Homo sapiens: one gene and its partners. The protein of the gene in region 2 interacts with the protein of the main gene of each other region in a biochemical or structural test. Each region holds a gene or a part of one and is shown on either strand. Other genes may lie near its edges.

Region 1 (7,034 bases), on a different chromosome or scaffold from region 2:
ATGTTGGAGAGTAGGGAGGGAACTAAGGTTTCTTGAGCCTATGCAATGTACCAAGCACAGTACCTACATTCTCTTACTTAATCCTTCCAACAGCCTGAACTGCTACCCCAAACCCTGACATTTTTTTCTTTTGAATCTTAAAAGTCTTATATTTTTATTTTTTTTATTATACTTTAAGTTCTGGGATACATGTACAGTACGTGCAGGTTTGTTACATAGGTATACCCGTGCTATGGTGGTTTGCTACACCCGTCAACCCGTCATCTACATTAGATATTTCTCCTAACGTTGTCCCTCCCCTTGCCCCCAACCCCTGACATTTTTTTTTTTTTTTAAAGAGGAATAAATAGAGGCTCAGAGAGATTAAGTAACTTCCCTGAGGTTTCATGCTGGTCAGTTCCACAGCTGGTCTTGAACTCATTTCTGCTGGACTCCAAGAGCTGCGTGTATGTCTTTCAGTGAATGATCCTGCCTTTCACAAAGCCCTTCTCTGCACTCCTGGCTGATGCTTAAGTTCCTCTCCCTTCCCCTCAGCTCACACTAGCTGATGACCCGATCCCATGTAGGGCCTGACACATATTTGGCCAAGTGTCACTGTTGGTTGGATGAATGAAAGGACAGATGGAAGGGTCTCCCAGACAGGCTGGGTCTGCTGACACTTAAGAACCCAGCCCCAGAGAAGTCCCACCAGATCTGGCAGATGGTGGATAGCCGAGTCACATCTGCAGGCCTCATCCCCCATTTCCTTCCAGTAGAGCTTTGAGGGGGGCTTCCGTCTGTTTCCGGGGAGGCACAGGGAAGGCAGCAAGCATCCCCCTTAAATTCTCAGATCCAGGCCCTGGGCCCTAGGAGGTGAGACCTTGGCAGGCTCATCACATGGCACCAGCATCTGCTGAGTCAAGTCACAGACATGACTCCCCAGGCTTAGACAAAGGGTCAGAGCTGATCCAGTCTATGCCCCTGCCTTCATGCAGGAACCCTCTCTCCAGCATCTTCTGGAAGCCCACTGGTATGATTTCCACCTGCTGCCATTACTGGTAGACCCAGAGGATTCCATGCCTCAGTGTTCCCAGGGGCCCTCTCACTCCCCTCCTCCTCCCATCCCTGGAGAGTGGGAAATGTACCTGTAGGAATAGATGGGTTTTGGGAAGAGAGGCTGGTGCCCATCGGTGCTGGCCTGGGGTGCCATTCGCTGGTACTGATAGTGTGAGGAGCCCAGGTAGGGTATGGGGTAGCTGCCACCACCTGGCGAGTACTGAGGAGGTCAAAAGGGGCAGAGTGATTGCATGGTACCCAGCCTTTCCCAGGAGGGCCCTCCTCCCCATTTATATACATCCAGAGAAGGGGCTCAGGCCAGATTCTTCCCTCCTGGGTCATGGGCCCCATCACCCCCAAAGCAGAGCTGTCTGAGGGGCTGTGAGGAGATCCACACCCTGTAATTCAGGATCTCAGAGGCCTTAAAACCCTCTTCCTCCAGCTCCTTCCTCTCAGCCCTTTTGATGCTCTGGTTGCTATGGTGACGGGACCCTGCAGGGAGAGTATGAAGTGAAGCCCTCGGCCCCTGCACCCTTCCAGGAAGGTGCTCCCAGTGCCTGTGCATCTCCCAGAGCAGCTGGGCCGGAAGCAGGATGTCCAGCCTGGGCGTTTGCTGGGCACTGCCACCTTTTATGAGTTTCAGTGGCTCTTTGAAAGGGCCAGTCATGGTGGTGGACAGGTCGGGGTAGGAGGTGGTTTTACGGCAAAGGGAGTGGCTGCGGTGCCACGGATGGTGTTTTATGGGGGATGGGGGTAGGAGACTCTGACTCCCCCAGCTGCTCCAGGCTGAAGAGCTCTTTCCAGGTTACCCAAGAGACATTTAGTGCCTGAGTCACCTCGGTCCAGGCTCCATAAAGCCCTGGGTGTGGCCATCTTGAGAGGGGGTGCAGACTGCAGAGGCCATCAAAGCAGGGCCAGGCATGGTGAGGTCATTTAAGGTCTGGTGGCCCCTTAGTCCTTCTGTGGCTCAATCTCTGTCCCTGCCTCAGGGACATCCTCTACCCTGGGTCAGACCATGAGCCTCAGGATAGCTTCGGTCATTCCACCCAGGCCCCTCATGGCAGAGAGGATGTCCTCTCATGCCTTCTCTTTGCTTCCCTCTATCTCTTTCTTTTCCCTGCAAAGCCAGCAGTCTGACCCAGCCCCTCTCCCTTGCCTTCCTCCCTGGCTTGGCTGAGATCAGGGCCAGTGCCAGAGAGCCGGGTGCAGAACCTGCTCCACAGGCAGGGCCTGTCTCAGTGCCAGGCTGCAGGTGGATGGAGCTGGGCGCTGGGCAGCCACTTGCTCTGTCTTGCCTGGTGACTCCTGGGAGCTGCCTGGCTGCTCTGGGGCTCTTTTCTTTCTCCTTTAAAACTCCTCCATCCCATGCCAGTGTGGGGCAATTACTTGGCATCCTATACACTTGGGAGGAGCTGAAGCTGGGAAAGGAGGAAAGGGCTGAAGATGATGGGGACTTGGAGTCCTCTGGGTGGGAAGGTCCCCTAAGCCCACACTGGGTGCCCACCCTTTCTAGGCTAATAGAAGTTGGAGGCCAAGGTCACATAGCAAGATGGTGGCTGACTATACAGAAGCCCTTGTTCCTCGACCTGCTCGGCCTGTGTTTCACACCACACTCCTCTTTGCCCCTCTCTCTGTCTGGGGCAGCTCTCCTCCTTCCCCCATTTCTGGCTCACATCACAGCCCTGCCTCCATCTCAGCCCCACACTCTTATCTGAGGCCTCTCAGGCCTTGCCAGGGACTCAGACAAGCCCACCCCTGGAGGAGGGCAATTGCTTCTCTTCCCATTAACTATTCCCGCCACCTGCTGTGGCCAAGCCTAAGGTTCAGGGCCCTGCTGTCCTTATCTGCCTATCCTGGTGAACACATGCCATCACATAGACACCCACACACCACATACACACACACGATATCCTCAGACCTGGGGGAAGCAGGCCCACTTGCCCCAGACCCACCTGGTGGAAGGGGGGCTGGGAGGAGCAGTACATATGCTGCAAGGGAGGCTGGTAGCAGAACATCCCAGCACCACTCTCCAGAACTGGGGGCTTGACTTTGACCTCTGAACCCTGCTGGAAGAGAAAGCAGATGACTAGATTAGGCCTTATTTTCTCCCTTCCTCTTTCCTGTGTCTTGAACCTTACATAAAAGCAACCCCTATTCTGCTTCCCCCAAAGCTTATTCCTGGAGAACAACAGAGAACAGAGAAGGGCAGAGATTTTCCCAAGGGAACTCAGCAATTTAGTGGTAGAGCCGGGGCTGGAACTGACAGCAGTCCCTACGCCTCCCCTCACGGCAGGGGAGAGGCTGAGGCTGGGCTGTCCTGAGAAGTCAGGGAGACTTGTGCTGGGGTAGGGACAGGGATCTTCTGGAATAGCACAAAGGCACGGTGCTGACCTCACTCGACACGCCTGACTCAGAGGTCTCAGACCCTCTGAGTAGGTGTGCAAAGGACACCAGGAAAAGGTCACAGCTCCAGAACTCTCCCTGAGGATCCATGGTGAGGGGAGCATGGGTAGTGGCCAGACAGGCTGGTCCAGCTGTGGGCCTGGGTCCCTTCTGTTTCCTCCTCTGTACAGCCCCAGGAAGCTCCAGCAGGATCTCTGAATGGGGCTAGTAACTCCTCTCCGCTCTGACTCCTGGCCATCCCTGATGCAGAGCTTTTGCTCCCTGCTCCAGGGAGTCTGCACAGTTGCTGGCCTGCGTGAGTCCTGTGGATGCTCTCACACTGGGCATGGGGAGCCTGCAGCTGCTGCTAGCCATGATGGCCAGACTCCGCCTTCCCATGTGTGAGAGGCCGGCACAGAGTCCCAGGGCCTAGTGCAGAGCTCTCCGGTGAGTACGGACAGGAGGGTGTGCAGCTAGGCCCCGGAAGGTGGACAAGCCCTGGAGGAGGCGGATTGCACTTCCTGGGGTTACCAGGGGCCTTGGGAAACCAGCATCTGGGCCCAGAGGGGCAAATCAGCTGTGACCTCTCTCTGGGTGTGCCCTGGGGTTGTTGATGCAGAGATTGCCATAATCATAGAATCTCGGGCCTAGAAGGGCCAAGAGCACTTGTGTCCAACCCCTTCATTTGACAGATGATGGGGCTGAGCCCAAAGAGGGGAAGCAATATGCCCAAGGTCACCCAGCAAGTCGACCAGATACCTGTGTGTCTCTGGAGCTCTTCTCCATGTGTGGGAGGGCAAGGGTGTGAACTCAATCTCAGCCTCACCATTTGCAGGTTAGGAGACACCCTGGGCAAGTCACTTGGCCTCTATGAGCCTCAGTTTCCTCATCTGCAACACGGGTATGGTGGGAACTCTCTAGAGTGTTGTTGAGGGGATTAAATGGGGGCACTTGAAAGAAAGCACCTGGCAGAATGATTGGCAGCTGTTATTGAGTGGAGGTTTGGGGGCAGTAGCTGAGATGATGGTGCCCTATCTGTAGGCTGTGGTCATGTTTAAGGGGCCTGAGAAGAAGTGGTCAAAGGGCCAGAATAAAGTCCTGTTTTGGCCACACCTGGTAGGACCCAACCGCCTTCTCCATCTTCCTTCTAAGCCTTTGTTGGGGTGGCTTGGGGCTGGAATGGGGGCCTGTTTGAAAGCAAGAGGTGAGGGGGGCTGGTGGGCATGTGGAGTAGGCACTGCTGAGGCTACGCCCACTCAGTCACTGCCTCAGGGACCTCCAAACCAGAGCGGGGGAGCAGGGAGCAAATTCCCTTTAGCTTTTATCTTCCCTAAGCAACAATCCCATGAGACAGGTAATGTTGACCTTACTTTTCAGATGAGGCTCAGAGACGTTAAGACTTGTCCAGGGTCACGCCGCTTATGGAGGTCAGGCTATGGAAGGACATGTTAACCTTCCAAGGTATTTCCAGGAATACACCCAGGCCCCACTCTGGGCAAAGAATGGGGCCAGGAAGGGTCCCTCCACACTTAAAGTCCTCTCTCAACTCTGTATGCTAAGGCTGGGGAGGGAAAAACTGTGTACTATGGCTCCTCCCCAAACCCTTTCCCTTGGCCTCTGGAATGTGTTTTTCTTGTCACATTTGCATATGGGTGTGTAGGTCTGGCTGGAGTTTCTGGACATTTAAACAAACAGTGAGAAGTCACACACTGGAATCCTGACTCAGGAGCCTCTGGGAAGCTGCCAGCTTCTTTAGCCTGGCCTACCTCCCCCACTTGCCCCCCTCCATGCTGGCCAGGCCAACACCCCTCCCCAGCTGACCAGGAGGCCCCAACTCTCTGGTCTTGAGTGGCAAGGTCTGCAAAGAGAAGGTGGGACTTTGGTCTCAGAGGTCTGACTCTTTCTAGGCTGCTAGGAACTGGGACAGTGGGAAGATGGGACACTCGCTGGCCACTAGTACTCACCAGGACTTGGGGGCCATGCTCCTGGCTGGGGTAGGGGAGCCCGTTACACCAGGCCTCTGCTGAGAAGCCAGGCAGGAAGGCCTCGGCCTCCGCCACGTCCACTGGGATCTCCTCGAAGGCCTCCAGCGGCCCTGGGGTCTTAAAGGAGTGTCCTTTGAGGGCCAGGGTGGTCTCGGCCTCTGGGAAGACGTCCTCATGGAAAGGCCGCTTGTACGGGTGGAAGGGCGCGTGGCTGCCCTTGAGGAATCGCCCAGGGCTGCTTGCTGCGGCCTCCTCAAAGCCAAAGCCAGGATACTTGTCTGAGGGTGAGAGCCTGAAGGGCCCAGGGCCGGGGCCGGCTGGGCAGTGGCCCTGGACTTGCTCGGGCCCTGGTGACGCAATGCGGGGGCTGTGTGGGGGCAGTGAGGGTGTCCTCTCTGGAGGGCCGTCGGACACAAATGACGAGCAGCTGAAGCCGGCATGCTTCTGGGTAGACAGAGAGTAGCGAGCCTGTGAGTGGAGGCTGAACCAGGCCTGGGGACTGGCTGGGACCCTACTCTGTTCTGGGGTAAAGGGGGTCTATGGCTGAGCTCTGGGAAGACCCTAAATGGTGGAGAAGAAATAGCCTACCCTTGGCCCCGATTTCATGAGGGCACCCTGCCATGAAACCTGGGGTACCCCAAATCTGATGGGGCTCACAGCCCTGGGACAGGCTCAGACTGAAGGGATGAGGAGTGACCCCTCTGGATCTCGGGGTCCCTGAGGACTTGTTTGCTGGTGGAGGGGACAAGACAGGCCCTGGGAGGTCCCTGGGGGCGGTAAGGTGACTGGTCTTCTTGTTGCCTGGGCAGCCGCAGGCCTTGGCCTAAACCCAGGCCCAGATGCCGGGTACTTACACTCTGTGGGGCAGGGGAGCCTGGGAGGCCCGGTGCCTGCATGAGGTCCCCTTGGCGCTCGCCCTCCAGTCTGGTGGGGCCCGGCAGCGTGACGTCAGACTGCGGCGGGGGTAGCGACACCATCACCCAGTCCTGGCCTCAAAGAAAGCCGTCTGCCATGAGAGTGAGGACCAGCATCCAGTGGGGACCAACCCAGGTTCGCCACCTCCACCCCAACCCCATCCTTGGGCTGGGACCCTGCCTCCAGTCAGCCATCTGATGAGAGAGAGAGAGAGAGAGAGAGAGAGAGAGAGAGAGAGAACCAGAGAGCGAGAGAGAGAAAGAGAAATAGTTTGGAAAAGCAGAGCAGAGAGATCAGACCCCTGTGGAGAAAGGGCAAAGTGAGCCAGGTAGGAGCCTCAGGAGGGGCTTGGCTGATCTCAGGCTGCAGCTGCAGAGACTGACCGACTGACCAGTGAAACCCCGGCTCCCAGCTGGGCTCTGCCTCTGGCTCCTCAAGATCGGTCTCCTGTGTCTACAGAGAAGGGCCTGGCAAGGTGACCACAGCAGGTGGTCTCCATTCAGTGACTGGGCAAGTCGGTGGTCCTGAGGGGAGAGTGAGCTGGTGCGTGGGTCAGACTCATGCTTGGGGTGGGAGCAACCCCCTCCATGCAGGTGAGCCAGCCCTCAGCAGAGGCTGGTCCTGCAGTGACCCTCAGGTCAGCCTGGCTGATGTGACCACAGTGTGTAACTGGGGACCCAAAGGCCCCCGGTTGCCTGGAGGCCCTGTGAGCCCAGC
Region 2 (6,821 bases):
CTCCCAGCTTGTTTGTGTCTGCAGCTCCACTTTACAGGCTACTCTGTTAGAAGATGATTTGGGGCTGCTTTTCATTAAAAAGAAAAGCCTTACCGAGGACTCCCATGCCCTTACTATCTGCCTACGCGATTTCTTCTTAACTCCTGTATCACTTTTGCTTTGCAATAAACTTCTTTGCCTGCTCTTTGGAGTACTTTGGACTCACTCTCAAATTCTTTTACGTGGCTAAGTCAAGAACCTGAACGGGCCAACTGCCAACACTTGGACATACCTTCTAGTGCACGTGCATGTAATTTGCTTTAGGACTATCTGCGTCTGAGAGTGTACTTTTGAAGGAGCTACATTGTCCGGAGTATATACCCTGGGGTTCATCGTCTTGCACGAGGAAAATTTAGAATACGGATACACACGAGGAGTTTAGGAGGAGATGTAATATTTCTATTTTTAGGATAGATCACGAGATGTAGACACTAGACATTTAAAATGTTACCAGATACAGGCCAGGTGCAGTGGTTCATGCCTCTAATCCCAGCACAGTAAGAGGCTGAGGCACGCGGATCACCTGAGATCAGGAGTTCGAGACCAGACTGGCCAACATGGTGAAACCTCGCCTCTACTAAAAATACAAAAAAAAAAAAAAAAAAATTAGCTGGGCATGGTGGTGTGTGCCTGTATTCCCAGCTGCTCTGGAGGCTGAAGCAGGAGAATCTCTGACAATCTCTTCAGCCCGGGAGGCAGAGGTTGCAGTAAGCCGAGATCATACCACGGCACTCCAGCCTGGGCAACAGAACAAGACTCCATCTCAAAACAAACAAACAAACAAAAAAACAAAAAAAACCCCAAAGTTACCAGATACAGTCCAAATTGCCCTCCAAAGTGGCTAGATAAATTTACCTCCCAACAGCAGTGTGCGAGAGTTCTCATTTTCCCATACCCTTGATGGTATGTTCTTGAAAGTCCTAAAGCTGCATTTCTTCACTAAAATTCTGTTAGTCACACTTTTTACTAATTTATACTGCCATCCAATGAGGTTTGATTACTATTATTATTATTTTTGAGACAGGGTCTTGCTCTGTCACCTAGGCTGGAGTGCAGTGGCACAGTCATACCTCACTGCAGCCTCAAACTCCCAGGTTCAAGTGATCCTCCAACTTCAGCCCCTCCCGAATAGCTGGGACTACAGGCATGCATCACCATGCCCAGCTAATTAAAATTTTTTTGCAGAGATGGGGAATCTCACTTTGTTGCCCAGGCAGATCTTGAACTCCTGGGCTCAAGCAATACCCCCACTTTGGCCTCCCAAAGTCCTGGGATTACAGGCATGAGCCACTGTGCGGGTCAATGATTCTTTTAATTAACTCTAGCGAAGTGGGCAGAGCATTCATTTTATTTACAAGTACTATACTCCTTCCCTTTGGCCTTTAAATATAATTTATAGGCAGCATTGATTTGCACTTAGAGACACTGTCTAACACAGGTCTCCGCTGAGAAGAGAAATTCGCCCATTCAAAATCTGTGTGTGGGCTAAAGGCTAAGGGCTTATGCCAGAAAAGATTTTTTGTTTGTGTTTTTGTTTTTGTTTTGAGAAGGAGTTTCACTCTTGTTGCCCAGACTGGAGTGCAATGGCGCAATCTCGGCTCACTGCAACCTTTGCCTCCCGGGTTCAAGCGATTCTCCTGCCTCAGCCTCCCCAGTAGCTGGGATTACAGGCTGGCCTCGAACTCCTCACCTCAGGTGATCCGCCCGCCTCCACCTCCCAAAGTGTTGGGATTACAAGCGTGAGCCACACGCCCAGCCAAAAAGATTTTTACAAGACGGGCAAGTGTTCGCTTTTCTATCAATATGTTAGCAGTCTGTATTTACTTATTTGCTGGTGAGAAACCTTTCTTCCCTGGTTTCTAAAGTTTGAAAGTCTTTGCCCCTGAGCTCATGAGATTTCCAGAGAACTGATTCAAACAACTTCATTAAATAGGTACTTACTTCATGCCTGGGGCTTTACATTTTTATTTAATCTTTACAACTCTCTTTTGCATTCTTATTGTCATCAGAAAAATGCAAATCAAAATCACGATGAAATACCATCTCATGCCAGTTAGAATGGCTTTTGTTAAAAAGAAAAAATAGCAGATGTTGCTGAGGCTGTGGGGAAAAGGGGAACATTTTTACACTGTTGGTGGGAATGTAAATTAGTTCAGCCACTGTGGAGAGCAGTTTGGAGATTTCTCAAAGAACTAAAAATTGAACTACCACTCGACCCAGCAATCTCATTACTGGGTCTATACTCAAAGGAATATATATCGTTCTATCAAAAAGACAGATGCACCCGTATGTTCACTGCAGCACTATTCACAATAGCAAAGACATAGAATCAACCCAGGTACGCATCAACAGTGGATTAGATAAAGAAAATGTGGTATATATACACCATGGAATACTATGCAGCCATAAAAAAGAACAAAATCATGTCCAGGAAGAGGGGAGAACAGCAACATGGATACAGCTGGAAACCATTATCCTAAGTGAACTAAGGCAGAAACAGAAAACCAAATACTGCACGTTCTTATAAGTGGGAGCTAAACATTGGATACACATGGACACAAAGATGGGAACAATAGACTCTGGGGAATACAAGAGTCGGGAGGCAGTTGGGGGAAAGGGTTGAAAAACTACCTATTGTGTATTGTGTACTTTGCTCACTACCTGGGTGACAGATTCATTTGTACTCCAAACCTCAGCCTCACGCAATATAGATGGGGTTTCACCATCTTGGCCAGCTGGCCAGGCTGGTCTCGAACTCCTGACCTCAGGCGATCCCCTGGCCTCGGCTTCCCAAAGTGTTGGGATTACAGGCGTGGGCCACTGCACCTGGCCTCAGTTTTTGTTTTTGTTTTTTTGTTTGTTTGTTTTTTGAGATGGAGTCTCGCTCTGTCCCCCAGGCTGGAGTGCAGTGGTGCAATCTCGGCTCACTGCAAGCTCCGCTTCCCGGGTTCATGCCATTCTCCTGCCTCAGCCTCCCGAGTAGCTGGGACTACAGGCGCCCGCCACCACGCCCGGCTAATTTTTGTATTTTTAGTAGAGACGGGGTTTCACAGTGTTAGCCAGGATGGTCTCCATCTCCTGACTTTGTGGTCAGCCCGCCTCGGCCTCCCAAAGTGCTGGGATTACAGGTGTGAGCCATCACGCCCAGCCTGGTCTGTCTCAGTTTTAAAACGGAAAGTCCTGCATCCCAAGAAAACCTCTAGTCCAGGCAAACCTAGGTGGGTCGCTCTAGGATGGAATTAGGATTTCCAGTGGTCTTGGACAGAAGGGCGACCTCTCCCTTGAGTTACGAAGGAAGGCGGAGAGATGAAGGGCAGGATTAAATAAACAAGTATGCGGGCTTTGGAGCCAGGGCAAAGCTCTGCCTTTTAGCTGTGTGATCTTGAAATTATTTAACCACTCAGATTCAGTTTCCTGTAATTTGGGGATAATTAAACAAGAATGAGCCGTGTGAAAGTGCCTATCCAACTGTAGTAGGCTCGCAGCAAGAGTTTAAATCGTTTTTATTCATCTCCGGTCCTAACTTTTGCCGCTGCTCTGTGTTCCACTCTTCTATCATCTTTAATTTCTCTGCTTGACTTGTTCCTGCTTTGTTCTCTCTGGTCCCTCTCCGGTCGCTCCTGCCACTCACGTTGAGTACCATCCACCACTAGAGGGCGGAATAGAACAAACCAAGATGGGTGCCCCTCCAGCTCTCTATGGCGTCTGCTCGCCGAGCCCCGCAAAAGAGGCGGGGATTCCATCATGTGACCGGGGTGCTGGGCGCCGGCGCAGGCGCGGTTGCTGCGTAGTCGTCGCCGGGCTCCGTTGCCCGCGCTGTTTTACCTTCCCAACGCTTGAGGCGGACGCTGGGGGGTCCTGCGCCTTTCCCTCCTGCCGCTGGGGACTGCAGGCTAAGGCCATGTCCCGAAAGCAGGCGGCGAAGAGCCGGCCGGGCAGCGGCAGCCGGAAAGCCGAGGCCGAGCGCAAGCGGGACGAGCGGGCGGCGCGCCGGGCCCTGGCCAAGGAGCGGCGGAATCGGCCGGAGTCTGGCGGCGGCGGCGGCTGCGAGGAGGAGTTCGTCAGCTTCGCCAACCAGCTGCAGGCCCTGGGGCTGAAGCTGCGGGAGGTGCCGGGGGACGGGTGAGGCGGGCCGGGAGCGAGGGAGGCGGCGCCGGGGGACGCGCCGGGCTCGGCCTGGCGACCGTTGCCCGCTCGCGTCCATCCATCCATTCATTCGGGCGGCCCGGGCGCCTCCCGCGAGCCAGCCACGCTCCGAGTGCAGGGCGTCCAGCTGCGAGTGAGGCGGACAAGCCCCTCGCCCCGAGACGCTCGCGGGGATCCCAAAGGGTCCTAATCATGGCAGACGCCGCGAGCGAAATAGAAAGTGGGTGCTGAGACCGTATATGGGAGCAGGGCCACTGGATTGTGGCCAGGAAGGGCTCTCTCAAAGGTGACATTTAAGCTGAGTTCTGAAGGAATGAGATGGAGCCAGGCATTGGAAAAACAGTTATCATGACGATAAGACCAGTTGAAGGAGTTTGAGTAAGCCCCACTTGGTAGAACGCTTTGCCTCCTTTGAGTCCTTGGTTTTTGGGTGGTGCCCCCATTTACATTTGTGAAATTAGGTCGCCTGTTTACTGAGCTGAAGGCAGCTTCTCTAATTCTTCCTTCCATGGGCCTCAGTTTCTCTGTAAGCAAAGGTGCTTCCCCAAGCTTTCTTGGGACTTAGACTGGATCCAGGTCCAGCTTTCTTTAGGGAACGCGGAGGGGGAGAGTGGGGAGGAGGAAGAAAATTAGCTTCAAGAAAGGGGATATGGCTCCAGGAACATGGATGGAAGAAGGAAAAGGGTCAGGAAGAGGGGAGAACAGTTAGGATCCCCATTGCAGGGGCAGGTAAAAAGGGGTCTGGTTGTCAGCTGTGTCACTTTGGAAGAGAGAGTGTTAATAACAGCCTGGCTTTTGTTTTTTTCCTCCCCGTATTTGAGTGCTCAGATCCTGCAGAGGGAAGACTAAAATGAAATTAAAGACCATAAGGAATTGCCTTAGTTCATTATTATTGTTATTTTGTAGAGACGGTGATTTTGCTGTGTTGCCCAGGCTGGTCTCGAACTCCTGGCTTCAAGCGATCCTCCTGCCTCGGCCTCCCAAAGTGCCTAGATTACAGGCATGAGCTACCACCCCCGGCCAGGAATTGCCTTAGATATTAACTGCAGAATAAGGTGTTTTAAAAATTTTCACATTACATTGCAGCTTATTGATTAAGACTGTGAACTGGTCCTAATTTCCCTTTCCCACCGTTCCTGTTTATGCTCATTGCTTCAGGCAGATTGGATTTCTTTTTGCTCACAAAGAGTTCACCACACTTTGCTGCGTTGCTGTTTTTGCTTAAGATGCAGTTGGAACTTGATTACATTTATTCACCATCATCTGGCAAAGTGCTTGGTACATGGAAGGCAGTCAGTACGTTTTTGCTGAATGAAATATAAAAATAATAGAGGGAGGTCAGCTAGCCTAAGCATAAGCCCAAGACACCCTTATAGAAACAGAAATACCAATTGAATACAGTGGAATTGGCGTGGGACATTGGGGCTTTTCCTTGCAAATGATTGGATTGCTTGTGTCTGCTATACTGGGTATGGTATTCTCAATGTCAGGGTGCCCAGGAAACTGAAGTACTCAATAGAAGGTTACTTATGAGGAGGAATTAGCACAGGGAGTTGTAAACTCTTGAGGGGGCTTTCATAAGGTTATGGGAAACTTTGGGGGTACTACTTCTGCTCCCTATCCCCACACCCCCATACACACACAGCATACTTTTCAAGTTAATTCAGCACACCTTAAGTAGGGTGCTGGGAATATGTTGATGACTAAGATACTTAAGGACTTCATAGCCTAAGGTAGAAACACGTAACAGTGGGTCTCAGCTTTTTTGGTCTTAAGATCTCTTGGCATTCTTAAAAATTACTGAGAAACCGAAAGAACTTTATATGGGTTATAGCTATGAGTATTTACTGTATTAGAAAGTAAAACAAAGTTAAAACACAAGAATACACACACATTCCATTAGCTATCAGAGTGATGACTTCATGCATCAGGTAGCCTCTGGAAAACTCCACTGCACTTGTGAGAGAATGAGAATGAAAAAGGTACATTACATCTTAGTTTTGAACTCACGGATACCCTGAAAGCATATCAGAGACCTTCCCACATCTCCGGTCCCTTGAGTCACACTTTGAGAACAGATGATACAAATAATTAAAATATAGTTTGATATATTTTTAGTAACAGTGACTGATTATAATGGTACTATTGAGAAGGAAAAGGCTACTACTCTATGAATTGGCCAGGAAGTCCTTCTCGTTCATTCGGTAAATACTCATTGGATACACTGCTAGATGCCTCTCAGAGGGTGTCATGCTCTGATTGGGTCATGAAGGACCAATAGGAGTACACCAAGAGAACGGTCCCATCTGAGAAGGAGTATATATAGAGGCACAAGGACACGATGTTTTTGGGAGATCTACAGGTTGTTTAGGGTGACGGGTAGTGTAGGGCACAAGGGTAGAAGTAACGGGCAGTGAAGCTAGGCTCCAGAAACCAGCTTGACTGGAGTGCTCATGTCTCTCTTCCAAGGTTCCTGTTATTCGGACAGTGTTAGATAAAATGATCGTATTTCCTCTTGTGTGGGCTTCATGGAGCTAACCACCTTCTGTTCACAAGTTCTTCACATGAGTTCCATTAGCTGGACTGTGGTTCAGCCCTCGTCAGTATCCTAGTCCTTTCGAATGTGGTGATGACAG
Region 3 (7,034 bases), on a different chromosome or scaffold from region 2:
TCACCGTGTTAGCCAGGCTGGTCTCTATCTCCTGACCTCATGATCTTCCCGCCTTGGCCTCCCAAAGTGCTGGGATTACAGGTGGGAGCCACCATGCCCAGCCCAGAACCACTTTGTTTTTAAAAATTATGCCAATGAAAAGAAATCCAGTGAAATTTGTTTTATCTAAAACTTTTTCTTTTTTTCTTTTTCTTTTTTCTTTTTTTTTGGGGATGGAGTCTTGCTCTGTCACCCAGGGTGGAGTGCAGTGATGTGATCTTGGCTCACTGTAACCTCCGCCTCCCGGGTTCAAGTGAGTCTCCTGCCTCAGCCTCCAGAGTAACTGGGATTACAGGCGGGCGTCACCTCACCTGGCTAATTTTGTATTTTTAGTAGAGATAAGGTTTCAGCATGTTGGCCAGGCTGGTCTCGAACTCCTGACCTCAAGTGATCCACCTGCATCAGCCTTTCAAAGTGCTGGGATTACAGGCGTGAGCCACTACACCCAGCCTAAAACTTTTTCTATTACTGATTATGAGATATATGTGGGCCAGGTACAGTGGACTCATGCCTGTGATCCTAGCACCATGGGAGGCTGAGGCGGGAGTTTGAGTCCAGCCTGGACAACATAGTGAGACCCCAGCTCTACCAAAAATAAGTTAAAAATTAACTGGATGTGGTGGCACACACAGGTAGTCCCAGCTACCTGGGACTACAAATTCTAGGTAAAAAAAAATCTCGAAAATACATGGGAAGTTTCTTGTAGAAATTCCCTGTAGAATTGTCAGTCCATATGTTCTTTTCATTCTAAGTGTTAATGTACTTTACTATTTATATAGTTTGGACTCAGTGAAAAGGTTACATAGAAATCAATTAATTGTAGTTTTTTTTGTTTGTTTGTTTTTTGTTTTGTTTTGTTTTGAGACAGAGTTTCACTCTTGTTGCCTGGGCTGGAGTACAATGGCGTGGGTGGCCTCAGCTCACTGCAACCTCTGCCTCCCAGGTTCAAGCGATTCTCCTGCCTCAGCCTCCCGAGTAGCTGGGATTACAGGAATGCACCACCATGCCTGGCTAATTTTTTGTGTTTTTAGTAGAGATGGGGTTTCTCCATGTTGGTAAGGCTGGTCTCAAACTCCTGACCTCAGGTGATCCACCCGTCTCAGCCTCCCAAAGTACTGGGATTACAGGCGTGAGCCACTGTGCCCGGCCAGTGGTTTTAAGTAATGGTATATTAACTGGTAAAGAAAAGGAACAAACTACAGCAACATGAACAGTGAAAATGAATTACATAAATAATGTTGAACAACAACAAAAAGAACGTAAAGGAATACATACAGCTGATGCAGCAAGACAAGGAAAATAAAGGCATAAGATGGGAAAAAGAGTGATGAAATCGTTATGTGTAGATGACTTGATTGGCTTCACATATAAACTGTTGGAAATAATTAGTAAATTAGCAAAATTGCTGGTTGCAAAGTCAATAAACAAAAATAAAAATATTTCAATATACTAACAAGATTAAAAACAAAATGAAAATACCATTTAGAATATCATCAAAAATATCAAACCTAGGTCCATTGGTGCATTCTGATAGTCCCAGCTATTTGGGAGGCCGAGGTGGGAGAATCACATCAAGTCAGGAGTTTGAGGCTGCAGTACACTATGATCTATCTGTGAGTAGCCACTGTACTCCAGCCTAGAGACCCCATCTCTAAAAAATAAAAATTGAAAACTTTGGCCAGGCATGGTGGCTCACGCCTATAATCCCAGCACTTTGGGAGTAGAGGCAGGCAGATCACTTGAGGTCAGGAGTTTGAGACCAGCCTGGTCAACATGGCAAAACCCTGTCTCTACTAAAACTACAAAAATTAGCTGGGCGTGTTGGTGCGCGCCTGTATTCCCAGCTACTTGGGAGGCTGAGGCAGGAGAATTGCTTGAGCCCAGGAAGCTGAGGTTGCAGTGAGCCAAGCTTGCTCCATTGCACTCCAGCCTCAGTGACAAGCGTGAAACTCTGTCTCAAAAAAAAACAAAAAACTGAAAACTTGAAAAACAATTTAAAAATCAAATATTTAGGAATAAATATCACTAAAGATATTCAAAACTTAAAAACATAACTGGGTAAATTTGAAGAGGAAGTAATTGACAACTATATCGTGTTCATTTTTCCTCAAATTGTTCTAGATTTAATGCAATCAGTTGAAATATGATCAGTTTTTTAAATTAAATTGACAAACTGATTAAAATATGTATTCATTTATTTTTTGAGACGGAGTCTCGCACTGTCGCCCAGGCTGGAGTGCAGTGGTACCATCTCGGCTCACTGCAACCTCCGCCTCCCGGGTTCAAGCAAGTCTCCTGCCTCAGCCTCCTGAGTAGCTGGAACTACAGGTGCATGCCACCACACCTAGCTAATTTTCATATTTTTAATAGAGACGAAGTTCCACCATGTTGGCCAGGATGGCCTTGATCTCTTGACCTTGTGATTCGCCTGCCTCGTCCTCCCAAAGTACTGGGATTACAAGCGTGAGCCACCGCGCCTGGCTGAAAGGACGATTTTTTTTTTTTTTTTTTTTTTTTTTTTTTTGAGACGGAGTCTCGCTCTGTCGCCCCGGCGGGACTGCGGACTGCAGTGGCGCAATCTCGGCTCACTGCAAGCTCCGCTTCCCGGGTTCACGCCATTCTCCTGCCTCAGCCTCCCGAGTAGCTGGGACTACAGGCGCCCGCCACCGCGCCCGGCTAATTTTTTTTTGTATTTTTAGTAGAGACGGGGTTTCACCTTGTTAGCCAGGATGGTCTCGATCTCCTGACCTCATGATCCACCCGCCTCGGCCTCCCAAAGTGCTGGGATTACAGGCGTGAGCCACCGCGCCCGGCCCGATTTTTTTTTTTCAATAAATAATGCTGGGTCAATTGGATATCTATGTAGGAAAAACATGAACCTTGATTCCCTACCACATATCATACACAAATTTTTTTTTTTTTTTTTTTTGAGATGGAGTCTTGCTCTGTTGCCCAGGCTGGAGTACAGTGACACTATTTTGGCTCACTGCAACATCTGCCTTCTAGGTTCAAGCAATTCTCCTGCTTCAGCCTCCTGAGTAGCTGGGATTACAGGCGCATGCCACTATGCCCGGCTAATTTTTGTATTTTTAGTAGAGACGGGGTTTCACCATGTTGGACCAGGCTGGTCTCGAACACCTGACCTCAGGTGAATCGCCCGCCTTGGCCTCCCAAAGTGCTGGGATTACAGGCATGAGCCACTGCACCTGGCCCCACAAAATTTAATTATAGGTGTGAGCCACTGCACTTGGCCTAAAATCATTTTTAGTTATAAAAATAATACTAGGTCATGGTAAAAAAAATTAATTGAGTGTAGAACCTACAAAATGAAACTGGTAATACTCTTCCACCTCCTGCCAGCTCCACTAGTCCCACTCCCAGAGGGTATATATAGACATTATGAATCTTGCTTTTTAAAGTAAAGTTTTAAGTGGAAATTTTTTAAAAAGTTCCAGTCACTTGGAAAATATTCATAAGCAAATATTTCAGTACTATTTTTACTGTTTCTTAGATTTCTGCACCTAATGAATTTGATGTCATGTTTAAACTGGAAGTCCCCAGAATTCAACTAGAAGAATATTCCAACACTCGTGCATATTACTTTGTGAAATTTAAAAGAAATCCGAAAGAAAATCCTCTGAGTCAGTTTTTAGAAGGTGAAATATTATCAGCTTCTAAGATGCTGTCAAAGTTTAGGAAAATCATTAAGGAAGAAATTAACGACATTAAAGGTAAGACTTTTGCCTTTTGATTCTTAAAGGTTTAATTATACCTAGTAATTGCCAATGTACACTCCCATTCTCATGTTTCTTGACCTCTCTGCAGTAAGAAAAAGTGCAGTAGAGAGGTCAAGAAACATCAGTAGAGGAGTGTACATTGGCAATTACTTATAATATGATTACAAGATTATAAAGTACAGAAGGGTAGAGGTCTTTATCTATTTGTTCTCTAATGAATCCTAAATAACTAGAACACCTACACATTAGATAATCAATGAATATTGATTAAATTAAATGATTAAATTATATGAAATAATCAATGAATATTTATTAAATTGATGGATAAATGAATCTACACTCTCTGCCTAGGTATTTCATCCATTCCCAATGCCACCTATATGATGATGACTCCCAAATGTTTACTTGCAGCCCAAATATATCCTTTGCACTCCAAACCTATATCCAGCTACGTCCTTAACATATCCACTTTGATGTTGATGTACCACAGGAATCTATAACCAAACATATCCAAAGCGAATAAACATAACTTAATTCATATACCAAACTATGTTTTGCCTCAGTCCTTCCCATCTCAGAAAATGGCACAATCAATCCACCCAGACGCACCATCCAGAAACCTGGGAACCATCTTAATTTAATCCTCTCTGTTACCCCCTACGCTTAATCCAGATGCAAGTGCTGCTACAGCTTGGACCTGTCTGCTGCTTCAATCCCAGCACCCTACTCCCACCCCACCTAAGCTGCCACCATCTTTTACCTGAACTATTACATCATTTTCCTTTCTAATCTCCCTATTTGCCTTCTTATAATATCTGTCCTTAGAAGCCAGAGTAAATGTTTTAAAATACAAAGCCAGTCATTACTCTCTGATGAAAACCTGGCTTCTCAATGATCAGATAATAAAATCTGGTGCCAGGCGCAGTGGCTCACACCTGTAATCCCAGCACTTTGGGAGGCTGAGGTGCGTGGATCACCTGAGCTCAGGAGTTTGAGACCAGCCTGGCCAACATGGAGAAACCCCATCTCTACTAAAAATACAAAAATTAGCCGGGTGTGGTGGCACATGTCTGTAATCCCAGCTACTTGGGAGGCTGAGGCAGGAGAATTGCTTCAACCTGGGAGGCAGAGGTTGCAGTAAGCCGAGATCGGGGCATTGCACTCCAGCCTGAGTGACAAGAGCGAAACTCCATCTCAAAATAAAATAAAATTAAATTAAATTAAATTAAAATCTGGCCAGGCGCAGTGGCTCACACCTGTAATCCCAGCACTTTGGGAAGCTGAGGTAGGTATATCACGAGGTCAGGAGTTCAAGACCAGCCTGGCTAAGATGGTGAAACCCCATCTATACTAAAAATACAAAAATTAGCCAGGCGTGGTGGTGGATGCCTGTAATCCCAGCTACTCGGGAGGCTGAGGCAGGAGAATCGCTTGAACCCGAGAGGTGGAGGTTGCAGTGAGCCGAGATCGTGCCACTGCACTCCAGCCTGGGCGACAGAGCAAGACTCCGTCTCAAAAATAAAATGAAATCTAAAGTCCTTTTCAGGGTCTACAAGTCAGTACAGAATCTGGTCCCTGGCTGCCTCTTCAGCTTCATTTCATATAACTTCATCTTTTCCGAAAGAGTCTCTTTTTGTTCCTAGATCTTTCCAAGCTCTTTTTTTCTGCCTCAGGGCTTGGCTCCACCACCCCATTCCACCCTAATTGCTATCACTTTTCCCAGTTTATTCCCTTCAGAGCACTCACTGCAATTTGTGTTGTATGTTATTACGCTATTAGATTAAGAGCTTTATCTTGCAAGCACAGACGTACAATTAATAACAAATGGAAAAAATGATTATCTTGTATACTGGAAAGTAGTAAGTGCTGTTGTGAAGAAGTATAGCAAAGTGAGAGGGATCAGGAATGTGGGAGATGGAGGTGGGGGGGAAGTTGCAATGTTAAGTAGAGTGGTAAGAAGAGAATTCCATTAGAGTTTGGGAAGAGCCAGGCGCCGTGGCTCACGCCTGTAATCCCAACACTTTGGGAGGCCGAGGCGGGTGGATCACGAGGTCAGGAGTTCAAGACCAGCCTGGCCAAGATGGTGAAACCCCGTCTTGACTAAAAATACAAAAAACTAGCCGGGCGTGGTGGCGGGTGCCTGTAATCCCAGCTACTTGGGAGGCTGAGGCAGAGAATTTCTTGAACCCAGAAGGCGGAGGTTGCAGTGAGCTGAGACCGCGCCACTGAACTCCAGCCTGGGCGACAGAGTGAGACCCTGTCTCAGAAAAAAAAAAAAAAAAAAAAGAGTTTGGGAAGAAGAGAATGAACAAAAGGAGACTATGAGTGTTTTGTAGAAGGAGCGGTCAGTGTTTGGAATGCTACTGACATCCAGAAATCCAATGGATTTGTTCTTTGGTCTTGTGGGGTTGACAAGAGAAATGTCAGTGGGGTGATGGACACAGAGTGAAAAGGCAGGGTTGCAGTGGAGATAACATGTGTAGGCCACTCTAGAAAGTTCTGTCTGGGCTAACTGTGGTGTCTCAGCACTTTGGGAGGCCAAGGCAGAAGGATTGCTTGAGCCCAGGAGTTCAAGACCAGCCTGGGCAACAAAGTGAGAGTCCATCTCTACAAAAAAAAATTTTAGGCCAGGTATGGTGGCTCATGCCTGTAATCCCAGCACTTTGGGAGGCCAAGGTGGGCGGATCACAAGGTCAGGAGTTCAAGACCAGCCTGGCCAAGATGATGAAACCCCGTCTGTACTAAAAATACAAAAATTAGCCAGGCGTGGTGGCAGACACCTATAATCATAGCTACTCAGGAAGTTGAGGCAAAAGAATTGCTTGAGCCTGGGAGACAGAGGTTGCAGTGAGCTGAGATTGCGCCACTGCACTCCAGCCTGAGCGACAGAGCAAGACTGTCTCAGAAAAAAAAAAAAAAAAAAAGAAAGAAAAAAGAAAAAAACATTTTTTTAATTAGCCAGGAGTGGTGGCATGTGCCTGTGGTCCCAGCTACATACGATGCTGAGGCAAGAGGATTGCTTGAACCTAGGAGGTTGAGGCTGCAGTGAGCCATGTTCACGCTACTGCACTCCAGCCTGGGTGACAGAACGGGACCCTGTCTCAAAAAAAAAAAAAAGTTTGGGCTGGAAGGAAGCAGAAAGATGGGTGAGTATGGAGAGGAGGAAGATGTGGGGTGAAAGGAGAGGTATACCCTATAACCCTTTGTATGAATTTCAGAATAATCTAGCAGGGAGGGAGAGATGGCTGATGTAGGAGA
Region 4 (7,034 bases), on a different chromosome or scaffold from region 2:
CAAGTAACTGGAACTACAGGCACAGGCCACCACACCTGGCTAATTTTTTGTATTTTTAGTAGAGACGGGGTTTCACTATGTTGGCCAGGCTGCTCTCAAATTCCTGACCTCGTGATCTGCCCGCCTCTGCCTCCCAAAGTGCTGGAATTACAGGTGTGAGCCACTGGACCCGGCCTAGTGACTCTTTCAATATCCAATTCAGTGCTTGGTCTACATGCAGTCAAAGGAGGCTGGGAGAAGAAAATGTCTCAGGATTACTACCATCTCTCAAGCACATCCTACCTCTTGGGCCTGGGCTCCGGATCCCTGTTTCCCATTCTCCTGCTGATACACAGACTCCCTGCTCACCTATTTCCCAGGAAAAAAGCAAATAGTTCAGGGCCTGTCAAAGCACCCATACCCTTTGGGCTTAGCCAAATGCCTGGGCTATATTAGATGTTCAGTAAATAACAAAGAATGAATGAACGAACGAACGAATGAATGCAGAACCCGTGTTTTTTGATGCCTCCATTTTCCAAGCAGCACCCCAGATGCTTTTCTAGCTTACATTTCCTGGAGAACCCTCTTACCCATTCTGCAAGGTCGTTATTTTTATACCTGATTTACAAAGCAGAAAACTGAGGTTCAAAGATGGGTATGGATCTGGTCAAGTTCAAACAGATCATAAATTCCAGAGCTGGACTTCCAGACTGGCTTTCTCACTCCAAACTCATTAAACAACGTTCATCTTCCAATATCCACTTTTAAGCACCCATAATAACAACCCAAGGTTATGCAGGTATAAGGCTAAAGCCAGGATTTGTACTTGTATCTGTCTGATCCCAGTACTTCCTGTTGTCAAGGCAGACATGCCCCAAGGGCCTTGGGGATTACAGGTCAGGAACCCCAGGCTGGGACTTCTCGCGCCAAGAATCCTTCTGCATCTACTGCCATCTGTCCCTTCCAGAGCACATACGTCTCCCTCCTTCTCAACTCTTGGGTGCTGGCAAGTTATCTCTGAGTGGGTTTGTGCCTGAGTTCAACAATGCCCCGCTAGTCTGGAAACAAGACCACAGCAACCACTGACCTCAGTTAGAACAAGTGCAGGCAGGTTGTGAGCCAACTCCTGTTTCCACAGTGTTCTCTCCCCGCTGCTTGACTTCCTAGTTTATGGGAAGGTGAAGAGAGGGCCCCCAGAGCAGTAACTAGTCAGGGCACTGACAAGGGGGCAGGTGGGTGGCCTCATCATCTATCCCCTTCGGCTATTCCTCTCCCAGCTTCTTCACTGGGTGAGGAAGCAGAGTGTTCTGATGGTTGGGAGCATCGACCTGGGAGTTAGGCAGATCTGGGCTCAACATTCTACCACTTTCTACCTGTGTGACCTCAGAGAAATGTCTTAGCCTCTTTGAGCCTCTGTTTGCTCACCTGTAAAATGAAGATAATGATACCTCTTTCATGGGATCACTGAAAGGACTAACTGCACGAAGACCTGTAAAATACTTCACTCAGCGCATGTCCCAAAGGAAACACCCAGCCCATGGAAGCTGGGTCACTCTTGGCTTCCCCTGCTAGCACCCCTGAGCGGCTCTGAGTTTGGGAAAAGGGTCTTACGTGGCAAAGGGCATTTATTTCCCCGTGTTGAGGGGGTTGAAAGAAGTGCTCTTACATAGGGGTGAAGAGCACAAGCCTTGCTGTTGTGAGACCCCGGCCAACTTACTTATCACCTCTCCAGGCCACACTTCCCTCATCTGTAAAACCGGAATTATAATCATGACTTTTAATTAATGGAGCCACAATGAATCTCACATAAGTTCATGGTCATAGAAGTGACTTATCTGTCCTCACTGTCTCCACTTCCTCACCCTCAATTCTCTCTTGAGATCACTGCAGACTGGCCTTTATCCTCACGCCTCACTGTGTCCAGCTCACGATCCCCTCCATGCTGCTGAAACCAATGGTTACTTTTCAACCTCTGTCTCTGACACAGCTGATCTCTCCCTCCTTTTTTCCATGGGAGTTTGGGATACTACCATTCCTGGTTCTTCTACGGCACTGGCCACTTCTCATCTCCTCAGCTGGCAACTCATCTTCCCAATATTTATGTGTTGGAGGGCCCCGGGCCTCATTCTTTGGCCTCTTCTCATCTGTGCTCACTCCTGGGTGATCTCCTCCAGTCCCATGGCTTTAGGTCAAGTGTACACGCCGATGGTTCCTGTAATTCTGTGTACAGTCCGGTCTTCCCTACTGAGTGCTCACTCACAGATCCAGTGCTGCTTCGGCAGGGACAGACGCATGTCTAAAATATCTAATAAGCCTCTTGAATTCAACGTGCCTAAAATAGGAACTCTTCATTTTGCCCTATTTCATCCTATCAAAATTGCTTCCCCCATGGGCTTCTCCATTTCCAAAACTGGTACCAGTTGTTCAAGTGAGAGAGCTGAGAGTATCCCTGATTCTTCTCTCCACATCACATCAGTCTCTCAATAAGTTCTACTAGGGGACCCTCAGAATACATCCTAAATCTGACCTCTTCTCACACTCCCATCAGGACTGCCCTAGTCCCAGCCCAGGCCCCCTTGTCTCTCCCTGATCTCCTTAGGTGGCCCTTGCCTGTCTCCCACTTCCACCCTTGCCCCACTGGGGGCTGTTCGCCAGAGTGATCTCTTACAAAGAGACATCAAGCATGTCAATCCCCTGTCAAAACTCTCCAATAGCTTTCCATCACAACCAAACTAAAACAGAGACATACAGGACCCTATGTGATTATGCCCCTGCCAGTGTCGCCGTTCTCACCTCCTTCCTCCCTCCATCACCCGCTCAGCTTTAGCTGTGCCAGGGCTGAAGAGATCCCACTCCAGGACTCCTGCATTTGTGGTGTCTGCCTGGAGCTCTTTTTTTCTGTGCATTTTTACATGCTTGCCCCTTCACTTCATTCAGCTCAAATGTTACCATTTCAAAGAGGCCTCGCCTGATTCCCATATCTAAGTTAATCTCTTTTTCCTCAAGCTGCCCTAACCTCTATGCTTATTTTTCTATGGAGTGCTCATCTCCACCTAAAGTTGTAGTGTGTGTGTGTGTGTGTGTGTGTGTGTGTGTGTGTGCACGCATTTGTTTACTTGTTTATTATTCAAAGCCTTCACTAGGAGGTAAAGCCTGTGAAGAAGTGGGCAGGGTGTTGTTTACAGCTGCATCTCCAGTGTCTAAAAAAGTGCCAAGTACACAGTAGGCACTCAAACGTGTTAAATGAATTCACGATAATCACCTACTTCAAAGGGTCGACGTAAGAACTCGAGGCAGTGATGCTTGTGAAGCCCTTGGTATGGTGCCTGGCACACAGTAGGATGTCGATAAATGTTAGCTCTTACCATTATGTAACAAATCCTCTTAGAATAAGGATGTCCTTCACATTTGCCACAGCTACCACACCTTTCAGACGGAGGGCCCCGCGGTCTCTCAGAGATCTTCTGGGCCAGGCCCCCGTGGGGCTGCGTGTGCTGGGCCTCCAGTTCTAAGGGACCACAGTGCACCCCTTATCAGATGTTTGTGTTTAGACTCTGAAGGAGGCAAATAACTCTAGTTCTTTTGACAACATTTTGGGCTCTGCCACCATTTTATTATGTGAGCAAACATTTGATAGCTGGGAAGCCCATCCCTAATGACAGGCCATAGAATCTCACTGGCGTCTCCTTATCTGCCCTTCTTGTTTGCTCTTCTTTTGAAACCTGCAAGGTCACAAGCCGTTTTCTCTCTCCTCCACCTGAAATCTGAAAATTGGAAAAAGGCTGATAGTGGGAAGTAAAGAGACTTGAGAGTGGGGGTGGGCCAGGGGAGGAAGAGGAGGCAAAGGGTATCAGAGGACCCTGACCAACGTCTCAAGAATGTGGAAGGGTCAGAAGCCTGTCTCCTCACATGCACGCACTGCTCAGCCCCCCTCTTTTTTTTTTTTTTTTTTTTTTTTGTGAGACCAAGTCTTGCTCTGTCGCCCAGGCTGGAGTGCAGTAGCATAATATCGGCTCACCACAACCTCCGCCTCCTGGGTTCAAACGATTCTCTTGCCTCAGCCTCTCAAGTAGCTGGGACTACAGGTGTGCACCACCATGCCCAGCTAATTTTTGTATTTTTAGTAGGGATGTGGTTTCACTATGTTGGCCAGGCTGATCTCGATCTCCTGACCTTGTGATCCACCTGCCTTGGCCTCTCAAAGTGCTGGGATTACAGGCGTGAGGCACTGCGCCAGGCCTTCAGCCCCACTCTTAAGAGTACTGAGGAGCAGCAGGGGCTTGGGCCGAAGAACCCCATGTTAATAATAACAATTGTGCCAAGGACCATGCTCAGGACTCCACAGGTGTTGACTCATCTAATCACACAACAACTCCCATATTATAGGGGAAGAAACTGAGGCACAGAGAGAGTAACTTGTCCAAGAGCACAAAGCTTAGTAGAAGGCTCCTCACCTCCAAGCATGATTGAAAGAGCACATGCTGAGTGGCCACCTAGACAGCTAGTTTGAAGCTGTGGCTCCACACTCTCCTAGTTCTTAAACCATGGACAATTCACTGACTCTCTTTTAGCCTTGTTTTCCTAATTTGTCAAATAGACATAATGGTATCCTCATATAGGGTTATGGTTGGAGCACTGATCAATGCGATAACAGTGGCCTTTAGTGGTATTGGTAGGTGTAAGTGTGTGTGTGTGTGTGTGTGTGTGTGTGTGTGTGTGTGTGTTTGGGGGGATCTTGAGAGAATAAGCCACTAAGTCAAAGGCAGAACCTTAGATGCCGGCAAAAGCAAAAGGGAAGGAGGAGACACAGGGAGACAAAAAGAGACTCCCCAGAAGTGAAAAGGAAAGCAGTGACACTCCATGACAGTTCAAATGAATAAGGCCCAGGCACTGGAGGGCAAGGCTGCCCTGAGTTGGGTGAGGTGGCTTCTCTCGAGGGCTTCTCCAGCCATTCTGGGGTCTCCTGCCCTGGCCCACCCACAAGGATGGCATCAGAGGCCTTCAGCCTTTGGATCCTTTCCCTGGTCCTCTGAGTTTCTTATGCTAAAGTAAGAAACCCGTAGAAAGCACTTTGCAATTTGCAAAGCTCCTTCCTGATGAGTAGTTTGAGTGGTCATTTTCTCGTGTGCTTTCTGGCCTTGCTGCCCTAGGTGAGCAGCACTGGCACACCCTGGGAACTTGTTAGAAATGCAGACTCTTAGGTGCACCCCAGGCCTACAAGTCAGAATTAAACCAGAATCCACATTTTCACAGGCTCTCTGGTACTTGTGGGTCCGTTAAAGTTCGAGAAGCATTAGTATAGGAGGCCTCTGCTCTTAGCGGTCTTAGGAAGAGACCCTTGCTTCCACGAGAGGCAAGAGCTCACCATCCAGCTGCCTTTTCAAGTACACTAAGCACTCTATAAATGCCACTGTCACAGAAAGAGGAGCCCAGCTTCAGGATTCAGGTCAGCAAGTTAAGACTACTTCAAGGTCCCCAGCAATTCACTTCTTTCTTCTGAAGTGGCCAGGAAAGCCGGCTCCCGGGTTTTCCTGCAGGAAGTGTGCCTCAGCATGAAAACTGCAGAACTGAGCAGACACGAGGCCCCCAGCCCTCCACCTGCTGCTCTTTGCTGGTTGAGTTGGGCATCATCTCCCTTAGAGAAGCCAAACTAATGGCCCATGACCCTGCCAAATGACACAGCTGAGCACCCTCTCTCCTCTCTCTCTGCAGTGTCCTCTACAAGCCTGGTGATGCCCACACACCACTTACTTCGTGCGCAACAACAAGGACCCTGTTTTCCACACCATCACCCTCTGGGCAGCTGTCATGGAAAAGCCCAGTGACCTGACCAGCACCTGCGAGAGGTCCCTGCTTACCTGACGGACGTCCTGCTGGCACCTCAGACAATCCACTCTCAGGAGGCGCAGCCCGAAGCCCAGTTTCCCTTCTATGCAGTATTGCCACAATGCCTCTCCCACGATGTCAAGGACTCCTGTCTGTCCTGGAGGTGGGAGACAAGGAACCTCCGAAGAGGAAGCAAGAAAGCCGTACTGTCTATGTTGTGATCCTTCATCGAACAAACTGATGCGAAAACTTGAATCTGTTACTGAAATGAGGAGAGAAGGACATGTGCTATTGAACTGAGCCAAACACACTGTAAATATCCACAGACTCCCTCCCCTGCCCCCATCCCAAATGATCTTGAGATTTCTTTTAAAGAAGTAAATTTGTCCAATGGCTGTAAACTATAAACTACTGTAATTAAGTGCAATTTCCCCTCTGTGTCCTCTCCCCTCTGCCCTGTATATAATACTAAAGTGTCTATTAGTTTTCTTTGTAAAGGTCAGAGTCAAAATTTCAAAAGTGATCTGTCCCCTCTCCCCTCATGGAGAAACATCCTAAGTGGGAAGTGAAGCCCCTTGTCCTCTCCCGCGGGCCTGGACACTTATGGGGACAGCATACCTTGGACTGACTACCAGCTAACTCCAGTCTCCTGACATTAAGACACACCTCTGGATCCCTGGAGGGGCTGAATGTAGTGTGTCAGAGTAACATGCCAGCTTCCTGTGGGCCAGGAGCTCAGCCGTGCACTCCCTAAGAAACCCCAGGGCAGGGAAACTGGCTGTTTGATAGCAGAAGAAAAAGTTGCAGTCTCAGAAAGCCTTCCATTAAAACAATTTATTTTATCACTACCCAGAGTCTCATATTTCTGTCTCTGATACTTTCCCTGCCATGGTTCCACCGAGAACCCCTGGCCCCTGGTCTCCTTGGAATTTTCTGTATACTCCACTGGGATCCTGTAGTGTGTCATCTAGGGGTGTAGAGAGGTGGGTGGCCTTCTCTTGCCGTCATGCTCCCAGTGTCTGTGTAGGCTTTACTGCTGATTGAGGTGAAGAAGAGTTGAATCCCCCAGTAAGACTCCACAAGTCGCTCAGAGGGAATCTGGCCAGAGCAGGAGCTAGCACCCTTTTCTTCCCTGCAACTCACAGGGGTAAAGTCATAGAGTCAATTCTTGGTGGGTGACATGTGATAGAAACAGACAAAAAGTAGGATGAATGAAAACTCTGCGGGTA

What was found.
Region 1: of the proteins of OTUD3 (region 2) and FOXN1, one has a biochemical effect on the other in vitro, tested with the Homo sapiens proteins (one study listed by BioGRID).
Region 3: the proteins of OTUD3 (region 2) and CGAS form a complex in vitro, tested with the Homo sapiens proteins (one study listed by BioGRID).
Region 4: of the proteins of OTUD3 (region 2) and HNF1B, one has a biochemical effect on the other in vitro, tested with the Homo sapiens proteins (one study listed by BioGRID).

What each region holds. Positions count from the first base shown.
Region 1 is NC_000017.11:28,523,315-28,530,348, reverse strand, and holds part of FOXN1 (forkhead box protein N1), read right to left. Parts: intron 6,409-7,034; exon of another isoform or gene 6,394-6,408; 5' UTR 6,380-6,393; coding exon 6,257-6,379; intron 5,847-6,256; coding exon 5,382-5,846; intron 5,168-5,381; exon of another isoform or gene 4,788-5,167; intron 4,777-4,787; exon of another isoform or gene 4,204-4,776; coding exon of another isoform or gene 4,177-4,203; intron 3,102-4,176; coding exon of another isoform or gene 3,099-3,101; coding exon 2,988-3,098; intron 1,256-2,987; coding exon 1,125-1,255; intron 1-1,124. UniProt on the Homo sapiens protein: Transcriptional regulator which regulates the development, differentiation, and function of thymic epithelial cells (TECs) both in the prenatal and postnatal thymus.
Region 2 is NC_000001.11:19,878,574-19,885,394, forward strand, and holds the start of OTUD3 (OTU domain-containing protein 3), read left to right. Parts: upstream 1-3,821; 5' UTR 3,822-3,940; coding exon 3,941-4,161; intron 4,162-4,579; exon of another isoform or gene 4,580-6,821.
Region 3 is NC_000006.12:73,442,264-73,449,297, reverse strand, and holds part of CGAS (cyclic GMP-AMP synthase), read left to right. Parts: intron 1-3,550; coding exon 3,551-3,770; intron 3,771-7,034. UniProt on the Homo sapiens protein: Nucleotidyltransferase that catalyzes the formation of cyclic GMP-AMP (2',3'-cGAMP) from ATP and GTP and plays a key role in innate immunity.
Region 4 is NC_000017.11:37,686,050-37,693,083, reverse strand, and holds the end of HNF1B (hepatocyte nuclear factor 1-beta), read left to right. Parts: intron 1-5,691; coding exon 5,692-5,712; coding exon of another isoform or gene 5,713-5,804; 3' UTR 5,805-6,653; downstream 6,654-7,034. UniProt on the Homo sapiens protein: Transcription factor that binds to the inverted palindrome 5'-GTTAATNATTAAC-3'. Binds to the FPC element in the cAMP regulatory unit of the PLAU gene. Transcriptional activity is increased by coactivator PCBD1.